2 separate regions of the Homo sapiens genome follow, and region 1 is linked to region 2. The links come from fine-mapping of genetic effects on plasma protein levels. A gene starts in region 2. The other region holds a variant in brackets. All regions are shown on one strand. Distances are between the middles of the regions.

Evidence for each region. PIP is the posterior inclusion probability: the model's chance that the variant is causal. Protein levels are from the aptamer-based SomaScan assay of Sun 2018.
Region 1: its variant is fine-mapped to the plasma level of the GALNT16 protein (Sun 2018, PIP 0.95).

The regions. Positions count from the first base shown.
Region 1 is chr14:69,323,949-69,329,309 of GRCh38, reverse strand. GALNT16 (polypeptide N-acetylgalactosaminyltransferase 16) reads right to left here. Exons shown (of 15, transcript NM_001168368.2): 3 at 4,520-4,618; 4 at 3,906-3,973; 5 at 3,283-3,348; 6 at 739-860. Among named protein-coding and RNA genes, the nearest start is that of GALNT16-AS1, 66 kb to the right of the region's middle. The variant C/T (reference allele first, on the strand shown) is at 2,552.
Region 2 is chr14:69,257,816-69,263,176 of GRCh38, reverse strand. GALNT16 (polypeptide N-acetylgalactosaminyltransferase 16) reads right to left here and starts at 3,019. Exons shown (of 15, transcript NM_001168368.2): 1 at 2,710-3,019. The coding sequence starts at 2,886. GALNT16-AS1 (GALNT16 and EXD2 antisense RNA 1) reads left to right here and starts at 2,650. Exons shown (of 4, transcript NR_184249.1): 1 at 2,650-2,887. RefSeq lists a silencer at 1,914-1,973.

The sequences.
Region 1 (5,361 bases), 66 kb before region 2:
TCTTGGCTCACTGCAACCTCTGCCTCCCGGGACCAGGTGATTCTCCCGCCTCTGCCTCCCAAGTAGCTGGGAGCACAGGCACCCGCCGTCATGCCCAGCTACTTTTTGTACTTTTGTAGAGATGGGGTTTCACCATGTTGGCCAGGCTGGTCTTGAACTCCCGATCTCAGGTGATCTGCCCTCCCCGGCCTCCCAAAGTGCTGGGATTACAGGGGTGAGCCACCGCTCCAGGCCCCTTTGCCAATTTTTAAATTGGGTTATTTGTCTTTTTATGGTCGGGTTGTTATCACCTCATCCTTTTCTGCCATCTGTCCAAATCCTCCCTGTTCTGGAGAACAGTAGGCACGTGGCAGGGGCCCTCCTACCCTCTCCTCTCTTTGAGAACAACATCCTCTGCTCCCTCTTGCAAGGGCTTCCCAGCCCGAACAAAAGCTCTCCCAGCACAGGATCCTAACTCTCCAAGGAGAAAAACAACACCCATTTGTAGCAGGAGCTTTGTAGCTCACCCAGGCTTTCATCCAATTTCATTCTCACAATAACCCAGTGGGATAATTATGACAATTATCCCCATTTTCAGATGAGAAAACTCAATAAGGTGAAGTCACTCAGGGGGAAGTAGACTATTTGGGCTTCCTACGATGCCTGCCCAGCTTCAAATACTGTCCCATAGGCCTCGGTGCCAGGAACGTAGTGGCTGAGTCCCCAAGGACGCCCAGCTCCCCAGAGACAGTGGCTCACCTCCTTCACCCGCTGCAGCATGGGCGGCAGCCACTCGGTGTTCACTTCGCAGTGGCTATCCAGAAAGGTGAGAACGGTAGCTGCAGCCACGTCCGCCCCACGCACTCGGGACCGGATCAGCCCTACAAGAGGAGTAGATAGGGCTTGGCGCTGGGACTGGGCCAACTGGCTTCCCACCTGTCCCCCAAAGTCCCAAGGCTCTCCTCTCCTTCAGGGGCTGAGGCTTCCTGAGTTATTGTGATTAGATTTGACTTTATACTTCTGCTTGTTTCCTGCCTCCCTCCCTTGCTTCTTCTTATCCACCCATCAACCACCATCACTCCAGGGTCACACCCCGAGTGCCCTCTATGTGCCAGTCACTGTCTGGGCTCTAGGGACACACTGATGAACAGTCACAGTTTAGAGCGTGGAAAGTGCAATAAAGTAGTTTGATCCCAAAGGAGAACCAGAAAACAAAACTTTTTCCCATGGGAACCTCTGGGTCGTCCCCTCCATCCATACCCCTATGTGTAGCATGGAGATAATCTTCGAGACTAAGATAGGCTTAAGTTTGTATGGCAGCCCCTTTCCTTACCTTCAGCATGTTATTTAACCGCTCTGAGCCTCAGTTTTCTTATCTATAAGATTCAGAGAGATAATAATCCCTGACTGTCAGGATCAAACAAGACGACAGGGACAGAGCTTGGTGCCTGGGAGACCCACACATGTCAGGTTCTGTTCTTCTGTGCCTGTCCCCCGATAGCCTCACCAGCCTCATTTTGGGCAGCACTCTGCTCTGGGCGGAGACCTGCCTGGTCAGGAGGGAGGAGGCCCAGCTTCTCCTGCCCCTGCCAGAGTGGCCATGTGTGCCCTGTGAGCTGTGGGAGGGAAGGGCCTCACTCTTAGAGCTCTGAGTATAAGCAGCTCCTTGGAGACATTTCCCTAGCCATGCCTCTGCCCCAGACTCTGCCTCTAGCTGCCTACCAGCCCGCCAGCCAGCCAAAAGCCCATCAATCTCCACTCCAAAAGTGTCTACAAAGCATCGAGTCATAAATTTACATTTACTGTTGTCAAATCCAGGGACAGCATATTCCCAGACCTGACGGTACCTACAGCCCAGTGGCTTGGGAAGGATTTAACTTCGGCCACTTCCATTCTGGTTTGAAGGTCTCCCTCACTGGTATTCTTGTGGCCCCTTGGCCTGACTGGTCTTTCTTTCTTTCTTTCTTTTTTTCGAAACTGAGTGTCGCTCTGTCACCCAGGCTGGAGTGCAGTGGCGCAATCTTGGCTCACTGCAACCTCTGCCTCCTGGGTTCAAGCGTTCAAGTGATTCTCCTGCCTCAGCCTCCTGAGTAGTTGGGGCTACAGGCATGTGCCACCACACCCAGATATTTTCGTATTTTTAGTAGAGACGGGGTTTTAGCACATTGGCCAGGCTAGTCTTGAACTCCTGACCTCAAGTGGTCTGCCCGCCTCAGCCTCCCAAAGTGCTGGGATTATTTTAAACATATCAATCACATCCCTCTCTTACTCTAAAACCTCAGTGGCTCCCTGCTACCTCTGCCTTATGAAGTCAATGCTTTCTTCTGGCTTCCAAGGTCTTCTATCATCTCAATTCACTCCATCTATTCCCCATGCTGACCAGGCCTGGGGTCTCGCAGGAAGGGAGTATGAGTATGAGTAGGCGGCTGGCCTTTGGGTTGGGCCCCACAGGTTGGAGCCATGGCTGCTCTATTCATCACCCTGGGCAAATCGCTGAAGCTCCTTAAACCCCAGTTCCCTTGTCTGTACAACAGGCACAGTGGGCTGAGTACAAGGACTGAAAGTAGCAAAC[C/T]GGATGCCCGCAGGGGAGGAGACCTCAGGAAAGGGGCTGTTAGTATTGCGCATGCCCATACCCCTGACTGATGCCTTTGCTTGCAGAGTGCACAAGCTGGCATGCCCTCCCTTGCTCCCCTTTACCTGTCTCATGATGCCCCCACACCCCATTGAGGCCCATTCCTCCATGGAAGCCTTCCCTGCTCACTCCAGCTCTCCTCTGATATCCATGCTATTCATACACAACCACAGCCAGCCTGTGGCTGCAGTGGATTCTGACCCCTTGGCTATGTAGTAGCTCTCCGAGGGCAGGGACTATGCTTTGTACTTCCTTCGTGTCCCCTAGAGTGCCATGCACAATGCCACGCTGTAGTAGCTACTCCAAAACACATCTGGATTGGAAGTGAGATCACATCTGCTTTATGCTTCTGGATTTTTCTCAAAGCCTTTCCACACAGCCTGTCTCATGCAATCCTTACAATCACCTTGCAAGGCAGAAAGGGACTGTCTTATCCCATTTCTCAGGAGAGACAGCTAAGGCAGTCAGAGATGGAGCAACTTGCCTACAGTTGTGCCTTGATGGGGCTGATCTGGGAAGGAGGAGAGTCTTCTGCAGAACCTGGTCTCAGCCATCAGGAATGCAGCAGGACCATGTTGGCTTGGTGTGCCACGGCACCAAGAGAGAGTGGGGAAGTGCACAGGATGACACCAAGATGGGCCCTTGGTGGGACCCAGGGTGCAAGGACTCACCTTCCCGCCGATCATTGCGCAGGCACTTGACCTTGGGGATCCTGGTCAGGAGTAGACAGTCTTCCGCTGAGGATGCAAAGAGGAAGGCAAGCTCATTTAGACATGGGCATCAGGCCACTAGTGGTTTGGCTGCCATGAAAATTGCCCCATACTAAGCCCAGGAAAGGGTTGGGGATGGGGATTGGGAAGAGGTATGGTCATCACTACTGGCCGAAGGGTTGCCCTGCCCCACTCTCAGGCCAGACTGAGGAGTGCCTGTACCTATGGCAGTACTCCACTCCACCTCAGGGAGCACTAGAAAGCACGCTTGGGGGTGGCTACCAGCCCAGCTATCATCTGCATTTGGCAGTTGTAATAATGAAGGATGCTGTTGATTTTCTTTACTTTTTAAAAACAATATCATCTCACTAGAGTCCCATCCAAAGCAACACCCACCCTTCTTTCCCCTCCTTTGACACCAGGGAACAGGACCAGGGAGGGGTCCTAGAAAAGACAGGATCCCTGCTGGGGGCAGAAAGGTGTCTGCGATGGTCAGGACAACCTCAGGGTGCTTGCCTTGGTGTTCTGGGGAAACAGGGACGAGGGCGGAATGGAGGGCTGCAAAAAGGAAGGTGACTACTCACGATCTGAGCTGAAGTCATCCACTAAAATGATCTCCTGGATCAAGTTGGCAGGAGTTCGGTTCAGGACACTACAGTAGCAGTGGAAACAGAGAAAGAGCCTGGATTTAGGAACCACCTCCCATTTTTACCACTCCCGGGGCCGTGGGACTCCCCAGCCGCCCAGCTCCAGGGCCAGCATGCTGGGCGCTCCTACCTGAATCCTATTCTTGTCTAAGTTCATTGAGGAAATGGGGAGATGGGAGTTCAACTTGACCACAAGCCCAGGCTTAGCAGGAAGAATCCACCTCCAATCCACCTCTCTCTGACACTGACAGACACTGCTGGGCTTCCATCACCCTCCTGAGGCCTCCTGTCTAGCCCGGCCTCCCTCAGCTCCTGACACCTGCATTTCTGCCCTTGTCCTGGACATCTGACCTGGTGTTTGACTGTCGCATTCCTCTAACAGTTTGACTTCTGGGGTCTTCCTGGCCCTGATTCACCAGTCTCAGCCTCTCAGAAGTACAGGACTCAGCCTCCAGCACCTGCTGGGCTTCAAGCTGTCTGGCCACAGCGCCCAATCCCAATGTCCTCCCCTGCCAGCACCACTGAGATGAGAGTCCCATGGCTGGACTTACCTCTTCACTGTGCGCAGCAGGGTGGAACGGGCCTCATTGTGGAAGGTGATGATGACGCTGGTGGCTGGCAGGTCCGAGGAGTAGGACACAGATGGGCAGCTGAGAAGGGAGCACAGAGGTCAGAGCCAGCCATGAGGGCATCCTCAGGGCAGGTCAATGTTTTTCTTTGTCCAGTCTTGTGCCTGAGAATACTTCTGCCAGGCAGAGAAGGCACACCAACAGCCAGGCCAGAGGCCCCGCGCCTCCACCCCCATGCTGCATCCCACACTGGCCCAGAACCCCGATGCCACCCATCCTGGGGTCCTGGGAGGGAAGCAGCAGGTTGGGAGACCTTCCAAGGCCTGGGGGCTCTTTACCAGAGATCTCAGAGCCCCCAGAGGGGGCTCCCTAGTATATACAGATACTGCACCAGGCCCCAGGATACAGCCCTGACCACACTCTGTCGTATGGTGGGGGGTATGTGCGAGAGGGAAAACTACCTCTGTTTGTCCTGATACCCTAGAGTTTCTTCCTTCTCTCTTCCCAGCTCAGGACATTTGGTAGAATCTGCAGAGGAATCACCCCTACCCTGGCTGCCAGGGAATTCCTCCCTGTCACTGCCCAACACTGACAGCCCTGCTGCAGACAACAAGCTGGGGAGCAGTCTCACTCCTCCCAGGGTACTGGGTCCCCTGGAGGAAACAAGCCTCTGTTAAGACACCAAAGGCCTATCCCGTCACTTCCTCCCTCCCCAGCCATCCATAGACACCACATTTTCTGGCCTACTGGCTCCCTCTCCTCTAGAAAGGGAGTGAAAACAATTCATTCCTGCCAGACTTCATCCCTGTTGTTTCTGCGTATGC
Region 2 (5,361 bases):
CTATTTCACTCCTTTAAGAAGCCTTGCTGTGCACTTTAGGAGGCTGAGGTGAATGGATCACATGAGGTCAGGAGTTTGAGACCAGCCTGGGCAACATGATGAAACCCCATCTCTACTAAAAATACAAAAATTAGCTGAGAGTGGTGGCGCATGCCTGTAATCCCAGCTGCTCGAGAGGCTGAGGCATGAGAATCGCTTGAACCCGGGAGGTGGAGGTTACAGTGAGCCGAGATCATGCCACCTCACTCCAGCCTGGGTGACAGAGTGAGACTCCATCTCAAAAAAAAAAAAAAGAAAAAAAGAAATCTTGCTGTGTGCATCAATGTGGGGATGCAAGGAGCTTCCAGCACAGTTCCCGCATGCATCACTTACATTCAGCTGCAAATCACATGGAAGAAATAACTGGAAGAGAGGAATACAATGAAACAATGCAAGGCAGTTGTCAAAAGTGGTGCCTGACGGGGGGGTCAGTGCTGGTGGAACAGGCATCTAAAGCTTAAGAACAAAGAGGGAGCTGGCTGTGCCCCTAAGTGGCCACAGAAGGCTCTGCCACTCCCAGGGACTTCCATTCTCCCTTTCTTCCTGCACCTTCACTTCCCAGCTCCCAGGTATCTCCCTGATACTCCTTCATACTTTAAACTTAGCTTCCCGCTCTGAGACCTTTTCTTACCTGCAGCAAGTCAAACCCTGTGGGAATAAGCAGGGACAAGAGGATGTTTACTGGTGATTCTCATGACCTCCAATTCCCACCCCTCAAAATGAGTGCTGAATCCTTCCAGCAGGTCCCCTACACCATTCTGGGACTCTTGAGAAATGTGAGCGGCCCTCCCAGTGCATCTTACAGGACTCTGGAAGGAGCAGGAGAGAGGTGCATGGGCCAGGTCAGGGTTCAGGTTCCGGGTTCCAAAGCAGAGGCTCTGAGCAGCAGTCTCCTGTGCTCTCTTCCCTCCTCTCCTCCCTGCCCAGCCTCTTTCTCCGCCCCTTCCAACTCAGACCCTCTTCTCATCGCCTCACCAGAAAGAGGGACAGAGCATCTGGCCAGCCTGCCTTGCCTGAGACTAGGGCTCTTCCTGCCACTGAGTATGAATGTGGCAGCCTGGGCTCCTGGAGAGGAAGCTCCCTGGGGTCTGGAGGCCACTGCTGGTTTGGACAGTTCCAGCTCCAACCTGTCCCTCTGCTCAGATCACAACACTCTGGGGCCTCAGCACAGGAGGCTTTTCCTTATCAGTTTTCTGTCCAAAGGGCGACAAGTGCTTTGGAAACAGTGTCCTGGGAGAACAGCCCAGAAGGGAACAGTGCACCTAATCAGGCTTGCCCCCAGAGAGTTCACCCAGACTGGTATCTAGGACAAAACCCACAACCTCACCCCCCCGCCCCAGGTCTCCTCAGGCAAAGCCCTGAAATAATGTTTCCTTTGCAGGGGACTCGGAATCTGGGGCAGGATGGGAATATGAGGGGACACTCTCCAATGAACTTCCCGATATTCCTGGGGTTCAGATCCGCGTCTGGATGCGTTTCTCGGATTCGGCTCCACACAAGCCTCAGCCCTCCGGACCTTGCACCTCCCCCGCGGATCTCCTCACCCCTCCACCCCCAGGCCCAGATCTTTCCTTGTCGGAATCGCCACGCTTCCTCACTCCTTTACCCCCGCCCCACTCGGCTCTCCTCTTCCTGGTCCTCATCCGGCCAGGCTGCCCCGCCCTGGTAGTTCCCGAGGGTCGTCCGAGGCTCTCGTCCACCAACCGCCCCCGTCTGGAAGAATGCGCCCGCTCGAGCGCACTCTCGGCGGGTGCCAAAGCCTCCCGCCTCAACAGGTGCCCCTGCCTGGCCACGCACAGCTCTGTCACCTGGGGCTCGGACGGAGACGGCGACAGGATCGCCCCCTGCAGGGCGGCTGCGGCTCCGCACGCCCCCGCCCGGGTCCCCAGAGCGCCAAGGGCCCCCGCAGCCCCGCCGCCGCCCCCGCTGTGCCACACTGCCTTTGTTTCCCTGCCCGCTTAGATGTCGCGAGGCTGACTTCATGCAAGGGTATCGCCAAGTTCGGGCGCTGACACTGCCCACCTACCCGTGGTGGCGGACCCTAAGGTTGGGAGTGAGAGACGCGTACAGTGCGAGACCTCTCCTCAACCCAGAGAACTCCGGGGAAGCTGGGTGTCCGCGCCGAAGAAGCGGGTTCAAGTTGACCCGGCTCAGAAGGGGGTTCGAAGCCAGGCGCAGCGCCTAGAGAGCCTTCCCCTACCCACGCCCCCACCCGATGTCCTCTGCCCCCAGAAGGCTGGAGAGGGGCTGCGCACTGCCACCTACGCGCTCGGCTGCGAGTGGTTCCCACCGCCCGCTCGCCGCGCGCTGGGCCCGGCAGCCTTCCGGGGCACACGAGGCTCCCGCAGCCCCCAGACTCCCGGCCCCGGCAGCGCAGAGCCGGGAGAGCCGCCACGTTCCCAGCCGCGCGCGCACGCCGGGCCCACCAAACTTGCAGCACTTTCTCCCAGCCCCCACCCTCTGTCACCCTCCCTTAGTCGGTGCGCCCCAGCCCCGCCGCCCGGCAGAGGTTGCCATAACAACGGGCAGGAATGCTCCAACATATACAAAGCCGGCCCGGCGCAGCGGGCACTCAGCCCTGGCCGGGCCCCGCGCCCTCGGCCGCCGCGCAGGGTCTGGACGCGCGCCGCGGCTCCCTAGCCGGCCGGCCGACGCTCGGGGCGTACTCACAATGAGCGGGATGGTGCGGTCCTCGCGGAGCTGCTCCGACCTCCTGCCTGCCCTCTGCGCGCCCCGGCCGCCGGAGGATGCTGCGTGGGCTCGGTTGTCCTGCCATAAGTAGTAGAAAGTGCCCAGGATCCAGGCTACGGTCAGGATGGCGATGGCATTGGCGCGGATCTTCCTCATGGTGGGCAGACGGGCGCCCCAGGTGGGGGACTGGGCCGGCGTGCTCTCGGGGCCGGGGCGGGGGCGCTCGCAGCCCCAGCTGTTTGTTTTCGCTCGCGCCTAGCTGCTCAGTCCTGCAGAGCAGAAAAAGGAGAGAGGTGGGGGGGCGGGGGGGTGATAGGGAGAGACAGGATCGCGGAGCGATCCTCACGGTCCTAATGCCCTTCAGCCCCGAGCGCGCGCGTCCCCCGGGCGCCCATTCATTCGTGCGCAGGGCCGGCCCCGCGCTCCAGCCGCCGCCGGCTGACCCACCAGGCCACTGCGCACTGGGAGAGAAGCGCGCCGAGTGGGAAGCGGCGCGGGCCTTCCTCCCGCGCCCGGGAACCCGGCGAGACAGACGCCCGCGGCGGAATGGCGACTGGCCAAAGCCAGCCTCGGCTCCCACCGCTAGGTGACCGAACGCCCGGCAGCTGCCCCCGCGCGGCCCTGGTCGGTCCTGCCGACCCACACCCACCCCCGGACCGAGCGGCCTTGAGTCACCGACTGGAGACGCGCGACCCCCGACCTGGGCCCGCGCCGCGAGCTGCAGTTCCGGGCTGCGCTCTGGCGCGGGATTCAAGGTGTGTTCGGCGAGTCCTTGTGTAGGGGCGGCTGGGCGGGGGAGAGTCCTGAGTTTGTACTGGAATCTGCAGCTGAGATTAGCCAGACCGGGCCCGCCCAGAGGAGGGATTGGAAGCTGGTGCACTTGACATTCGAAGAGCGCGAAGGGGAAACGACGCTGCCTCACACCCAGTGCTAGGAGAGTGCGGGTACGGCCCTTCCACATTTTTCGCTGGCCTGGGGCTCCCAGATTTCACGATGCTTCCCTCTATCCCGCCTCATTGACCCCTGGACAACCCTGAAATATCATCGTCAGCATTATTTCATCGGAAAGAAGGGCAGCAAGAGAGGCCGGATGATTCTCCCAAGGCCACACAGCTAATTAGTGGGCAGAGCCCAGTCTAGAAGCCATCTCACCATCTGACACCTTTCGACAAAGTGCAAAACGCGGTGGTGAGAGACGAGGACACAGACATTAAGATTCCGCTCCAGCCCTAGAGGCACTGAGAATCAGAACGTGAACTACTCTTCACTCCAGGCAGAAAGCAAGAGGCTTGGATGAGTTTTAGGAAACCAGCACAGTGTCGGGCACAGAGCGCTCAATGAATAGATGTGTAACAACAAAGTAGGGATCCAACAGAGGAAGAAATAATTTATTGTAAGGTGGCCTTTGGGAAAGCTCTCAGAAAGGTGGATGAATCACTTAAGAGGTAAGGAAGGGGGAGGTGAGGACAGGGGAGAGACTGCAGAAATAGGCCTTGCAAAAATCCAGAGGATGGAAGAGCTTGATGTGTTCAAGAGAGAGAGCTGCCAGGCGTTGCAGGGGGCCTAGGATTTGATAGGAGTTGAGGTTGGCCAGGCTGGGTGAGTCTGAACTCAGGAGGTCCTTGAATGCCGGGGCAGAGTTGTTGAGGAGTCTGCTTCCTGCTGGCACTGCTGGACACCATGGCTACTCCGAAGACCCACATAGGGTCCAGCCTCTAAATGAAGCCATCTGGGGAATCAGGCAAACTGAAGTCACAGCATCATGCCCCCCCACAAGCATCCCATGAGCACCACCCTGACAGATAGAAGTAAAATCAGGTGGCTTTTCTCCATTTCTCCAGCACTCGAGACTGAACCGCACATATAATAGATGCTCAATACATTTCTGTTGAGGTGAAGAAACCCTAGTTGGGTTTTTGCTGAGGAAAACCCAGGGTCATTACTGCAATACGATATCCTCACTCAGAAGACTAATTACGATGACACTTAGACAAGTCCAAAAGTGACCCACGCAGGAATGGGACCTAGAAAGAAGAGAATGCACAAAGAGGGCCTCACAAAGGGTCTACACAAGTAGCAGGGAATTTCAGGCATAAGGTGTGGCAGTCACAACAGGGGCAGGAGTCTGGAGACGCCAGATGCTCTCCCAGGTCTCTCTCCCCTGGGGAGTTTAATAAGACTGCGCCAGGGGCCAGGGCTTGTTTGCATAGATGGAGAAAACCACTGCCAAACCTCCATCTGGTTTCCGCAGGAATCATGGGGCAGATCCAGCGGTGCCATTTGTGGGAGGCCAGGAAAGACCTTGCTCCTTGGGAATCAGGCTCCACAGGCCTCTCAGGTCAACCAAGAAAATGTAAGGGAACTACCCTCCTGGTGCCCCCATTTTCACACATCTCTCAGGTGAGCCAGGTGAAAACTTGGGGAGTAGCCCTGTTGTCATAGGCTGCTCCCCTCATCCCAGCCTGGTCTGTGCATCTCTAGTTGCCTTTGGATGTGGGATTCGAAGACATCACATCACCTATCACCTCCTGGTAAAAGGCTCCAAACTCACCCCTCGGCACGGGGATGAAGCTGGACCATGCTGACTGAAACCAGACAGTTGGGGCTTCTGGTGACTCCAAAAGGAAGGCT